Regions from separate parts of the Homo sapiens genome. Here region 2 is linked to region 1. The links come from fine-mapping of genetic effects on gene expression. A gene starts in region 1. The other region holds a variant in brackets. All regions are shown on one strand. Distances are from middle to middle.

Region 1 (2,919 bases):
TTTGTAGGGAGGAATGCCTTTCTATGTTTCTAACTTGCCCAAAGTCTGCATCCTTGTAAAGTAGTGTTCTGAATGTGAGCGATCATATTCATGAAGTGCCTGGCACATAGTAAGCACTCAATAAAGAGGGATGTAATTTTTATGAACTGTGCACTGAACGTTTATTATAAGCTCATTTAGTTTGTAACAAACACAAAAGGCCAAACCTAGAACTTATTGGTAATTCTTATAGAAAGGACACACCTATGCCCAATACTTACTCACTTTCTTTTTTTTTTAGAGTCTCGCTCTGTGCCCCAAGCTGGAGTGCAGTGGTGCAATCTCAGCTCACTGCAACATCCATCCACCTCCTGGGTTCAAGTGATTCTCCTGCCTCCGCCTCCCGAGTAGCTGGGATTACAGGTGCCCGCCACCACGCCCAGCTAATTTTCTGTATTTTTGGTAGAGATGGGGTTTCACCATGTCAGCCAGGCTGGTCTCGAACTTCTGACCTCAGGAGTTCCAGGCCTCCCAAGGTGCTGGGATTACAGGCGTAAACCACCGCGCTTGGTCTGCCCAATACTTTCAACATTGCTCTGGATCTTACTGTAAAATTCTTGGAAACTGCTGTGATACTAAGATAACCAGATATTTACAACTGATACAAAGTACTACTGCAATAGTTATTTATGGATCCCGCACAATGCTGGGGGCAGGGTGGTAGGTACAGAGAAACAAACGTCACTGTAACTATCAAGTTACAAAATCCCTTGAGTAGAAAAACAATGACTTCCTTAAGATTTATTTTACTTTTTACTGTATTTAAGTTTACACTACTGTTTCTTCCTTACCAGGGGAGAATTTTATGATTTTTATGTTGGCCCATTTTCTTTTTCCGGAAAGTCTAAACTAGCATTTAGCTCGTCCTGATTAGAGTCAGGCACCGCCAAGGCATGGGTTGGCATCTTCCAGATCCCGCTCCCCCAACCGCGGCCACAGCAGATCTGGAGGACCGGGAGAGGACGCAAGGAGGAAAAGCCCTGCTCTGCGAGCTGACAGCCGGACTCTGCCCACATTGCCAATGGAACCACGTCTTCAAGCCGGAAACTCAGCTGGACCTCTCGCAGCGCTCTCTGCGAGGGGGCACAGGGGTTATTTTCTCCGATGTTGTCCACACCCAGAAAAGCTTGTCTCTCGGGGCTACTGTGCTGAGCCCCGACTGGTCAGGTTAGGCCACCGGGGTTAGCTCTGCAACTCTTGCTTCACGGTTAACAGCCCGGAGAGCTTTCTTAAAAAATACCGACGCCCACTGCCACCTGGGACAACGTAATCAGGCTCCCTAGAAAAGGGGCTCAGGCCTGGGTACTTTTTAAGGTTCTCTTGTGAACCAGGACCAAGGGTCTTGGGAGGGTGCCGCGGAGACCACGTGGGCATGGAGGCCCCGCCCCCGTTTCCCGCCCCGCGCGCCCCTCCCCCGGTTCCCCGCCCCCCCCAACCCCGCCCCCGCCCCGCCCCACCCCTGCGCGTCCCGCCCCTCCCGTGCGCCGCTGACGCGCCGTGCTCCGGCGCAGGCGCACAGGGGACGGTTGCTGGCCCAGGTGAGCGGGCGCGCTGGTCCAGGTGAGCGGGCGCGTCCCCGCGACGGCGCTGCCTGCCCGAGGCGGTTCACGTAAAGACAGCGAGATCCTGAGGGCCAGCCGGGAAGGAGGCGTGGATATGGAGCTGGCTGCTGCCAAGTCCGGGGCCCGCGCCGCTGCCTAGCGCGTCCTGGGGACTCTGTGGGGACGCGCCCCGCGCCGCGGCTCGGGGACCCGTAGAGCCCGGCGCTGCGCGCATGGCCCTGCTCTCGCGCCCCGCGCTCACCCTCCTGCTCCTCCTCATGGCCGCTGTTGTCAGGTGCCAGGAGCAGGCCCAGACCACCGACTGGAGAGCCACCCTGAAGACCATCCGGAACGGCGTTCATAAGATAGACACGTACCTGAACGCCGCCTTGGACCTCCTGGGAGGCGAGGACGGTCTCTGCCAGTATAAATGCAGTGACGGTGAGGGGGCACCCGGGCCCAGCGAGGGCTCGTGCTTTCGGGGGATTGGGGTGACGGAGATCCTGGAGGTGTGAGTGACAGATGCAAGGCAGACCTTGACGGTGTCCTTCGGCTGTGGAAAAACTTAACCACTGCTAGAATCTTGCCGTTCTAGTGATTGAGCAAGCTGGGTACAAGTTCGCACCACTATTGTTAGAATGTGAGAGGTCACATTCTAACGGAGAGGTGTACCCCCCGTCCCATTTGCATTGCTTCTGAATTACCTTTTCCCCCCCTCAATTGCACCAAGTTGCCGAAGAACTTACTGACGTAGGAATCATGGGAATAGAGTGGAACAGACTGGTTTTAGCTCATTTTTGCTTCTGTAAATTGGATGAACATGCGAAGCAAACTGAGAATTTAAAAACCATGCCGTATTAACTTTCTCTATAATTGATATTAAATGGTTTTTTTTCTGCAAACCCATAGACAATAACTTGCGACCTTTGTACAGACTTTTGGTGTACTCGAGTGTTGAGAAAGGGTTCCGATAACTCTTCTTTCCTTAGATATCAGTGACCCGCCTCCTCCTCATTGTTGGTTAACGTTAATACAGTTATCTTCATTTACTCTTTTAATATTTTTTGAACTTTCTCTTTGAACCTGAGAATTTGTTTGGTGGCGGTATGAGTACTAATCAACTCAGTATTTCAGGCAGAGATAGTTCTTTTGTAGCACATTTTTGAGTGCTTAAATATTTTAATAGGTCAGAAAAATATTGGACTTTTGTTTGGAAATTGAAAATGTTAAGAGAGCAGTTGGGAGATCATGTTTCCAATAAGATTAGCCAAGGTTAGAGTCTCATTATGCTGGCAGCGGAAAATAATCGGGGATCCAGTGACTTCATTGTTGGAACCTG
Region 2 (2,919 bases), 21 kb after region 1:
ATTAGTTGTTAGAGGCTGGGCATGGTGGTTCAAGCCTGTAATCTCAGCACTGTGGGAGGCCAAGGCGGACAGATCACTCAAAGTCAGAAGTTCGAGACCAGCTTGGCCAACATGGCAAAACCCTGTCTCTACTAAAAATACAAAAATTAGTTGGGTGTGGTGGCACATGCCTGTAATCCCAGCCACTCGGGAGGTGAAGGCACAAGAATTGGTTGAACCTGGGAAGCAGAGGTTGCAGTGAGCTGAGATTGCACTGCTGCACTCCAGCATAGGCGTCAGAATAAGACTCTGTCTTGGAAAGAAGAAAAAAAATTGTTAGCCTAAAACCAACTCTCTCTAAATTTAAAAGAGTGATTATTTATCTTAGTATTTATAGAAGTATGAGATTATCAGAAGGTGCGATGCACAATGCTCATTATTTTATCCTAGTACAAGACACGTATAACATCTAACAGTAAAGAAGATGGAATCTTTCTATAAAAACAATTCTGTTATTAATAGTTGACTGACTTCAGTAACTTTGAGGAGTAGAATGAAACTTATTAGGCAAGATCTTTCCACATACACTACATTGTATTGTTCAAAATTCATAGAAATTACTTGCAATATATTGATTTAAGCCTTATGTAGTGACTGTTGCTATATTTGAAGTAGCATTTTTAGTTTGCTGTTTTTCCTCACTGCTTAATCCTACAAAAACCAGCCATCTGCCTAAAAAATAAAAGAGCAAAAATGAATCAGTGCAACCGGTATACGAAAAATAATAATTATTAATAAAACTGTAAAGGGATCACTAGTGTCATCTTTTATATATGTCACAATGATGTTAGACTTTTTGCCTCAGGCTTACTTATTCAGTTTCCATAACATCCTTCAAAAATCTCCTTGTTGACAACTTGACAAACATTTCTCTGTTGGCTTTCAAGTTTTAAGTATAGCAATCAGAATCATCATAGAAATTAATATTTCTATGAATTCTGTAAGAAAAAATATTAAACACCAAAATCAGTGACCAAAATTTTTAAGTTGTAGAATTATCTCTGAACTTAACTTTATTCCCTATATTTCATTCCTATGATAGGTGACAAGCCAAGACCTTCAGTTTTAATAAGTTCCACTTTTATTTATATTTTAAAATAATATATTGCCTTTGAATAATGCCTATCTCCTTAAAATCTTTTGGCACATTTCTTCCAGGGACAGAGATGGCTGTTTATTTCATAAAGGAGACATTGAGCACAGAGAAGCTGTAATGAAGACA[C/T]GATTGAGATATGAGGGCAAACCAGTTTCAATAAGTCACTTTTATGGAAAACTATTCAGATATAGGAAGAATCAAGTCATCCTGTCAGTTAACTTAGTGTATCTGAATTTTAATGGATTTGCTGTGGGAATATTTTTCTTTGAGAGGGAAGAGAGTGCTTGGTAGGATTCCAGTCTATGTTGGTGGTTCTCAAACATGAGCATGCGTGAGACTCACTGGCAGGCTTGTTAAAACACACTGCTGGACCCCACCCCCAGAGTTTCTGATTCAGTAGGTCTGGGGTAGACAGGAGAATTTGCATTTCTAACAAGTTCTCAGATGATGATACTGCTGGTTCATAGACCACAGCTTGGGAAGTAGTTTAGGTAATCTTCAGTGCTGAAAATAACTAATGTACTGAAAGCTTGCTGTGGGTTCAGTACTTTCATAGGAGTTTGCAATTTACTGTCTCAAAAACTCTGGAATAGATTTGGACCTCATTTTACAACAAAGAGTTTGAAGCTATGAGAGGTTAAGTTGCATTACCTGTCACATATCTAACAGCAAATAAAATGGGGAAGCCGTGAGTAGAACCTGGGCAGCCTGTTTCCCAGTCCCAGGCACTCAGCCATTTTATTGTGGCTAGCTGTTGCTTTAAGAGGCTAAAATTATACATTTGTAATTCTGAAATAAGTACCCAAGAAAATGTTCTGTATTTATGTTTTTAGACAAAATCCTGATCAGTGGTGAATAAGGGGAAAAAAAGGTAGACAAAATATTGTTTTAAAATACTTAACCACATAGACTATAGTAGTAATGTTGAGATAATAAGATACTTATGGAGAAAAAATGACAAATTCCTTCCATCTGCTCTTTTCAGATAAGTAGAACGTCAGCCAACTGGAGTTCCACTCTTGTCGAGGGAATGTTTTCAGGACTCAGAGACCCTGAAAGTGAGGCCAAAGGACTGGAAGTTCTGGTGGTCAGATAACTCATTCAGACTGGATAAAAGCCAGAGTGTAAATGTGAAAACCCTGAATTGTAGTCAATGGCTAAATATTGAGCCACATGCAAGGCAACTGGGGTAGGTAATGAGGAAACCAAAAAATGCCACTGCTGTTTCCAACGAGTACAACAAGATGGTAATAACCAATATTCATTGAGCTCTTCACATGGCAGGCAGTATTCTGAGTCCTTCACAGTCACTTAACCCAATCATCACAACCACCATACAAGGGAAATATGGAAATTCCATGTCTTTGTTGCAGGATAAGTTACTAAGACAGTGATTTCTGAAATATTTTATGCATACAATGAACAGTAAATGGTTTGAGTAAAAACCCTTCTTTGATTTCGTACTCTAATGACATCAAGACTTGAACCACAGGCACATGTAGAAGTTACCAAATTAGATTTTTTCTCTCCCAAATAATAGTATGAGATGAGTTCCTTATACTTATTTCTTAAGTATTCATTATACTTATTTTAATATATTAGAAGTGGTGCCTTAACACATTTTAATTTTTTTCCCACTCTAAGGTTGCTTACTTTTAAAATTACAAGGTCCAGAGGAATTACAAAAGATAAAGCCACCGTTTCATCAAATCTGAAAGCATTGTCAAAGTAAATTTTTTACAATAGCCAACCACCCAAGGAGGAGCTAAATTAAATCCAACATT

The links. PIP is the estimated chance that this variant, and not a neighbour inherited with it, causes the effect.
Region 2: its variant is the best candidate, but not a certain one, in a credible set for the expression of PLA2G12A in whole blood (TOPMed, PIP 0.52).

What each region holds. Positions count from the first base shown.
Region 1 is chr4:109,728,704-109,731,622 of GRCh38, reverse strand. PLA2G12A (phospholipase A2 group XIIA) reads left to right here and starts at 1,553. Exons shown (of 4, transcript NM_030821.5): 1 at 1,553-2,021. The coding sequence starts at 1,814. It also overlaps a transcript of CFI not described here. RefSeq lists enhancers at 559-1,435, 2,095-2,164 and a silencer at 1,425-1,764.
Region 2 is chr4:109,707,860-109,710,778 of GRCh38, reverse strand. PLA2G12A (phospholipase A2 group XIIA) reads left to right here. Exons shown (of 4, transcript NM_030821.5): 4 at 1-790. It also overlaps a transcript of CASP6 not described here. Among named protein-coding and RNA genes, the nearest start is that of CASP6, 5.9 kb to the right of the region's middle. The variant C/T (reference allele first, on the strand shown) is at 1,262.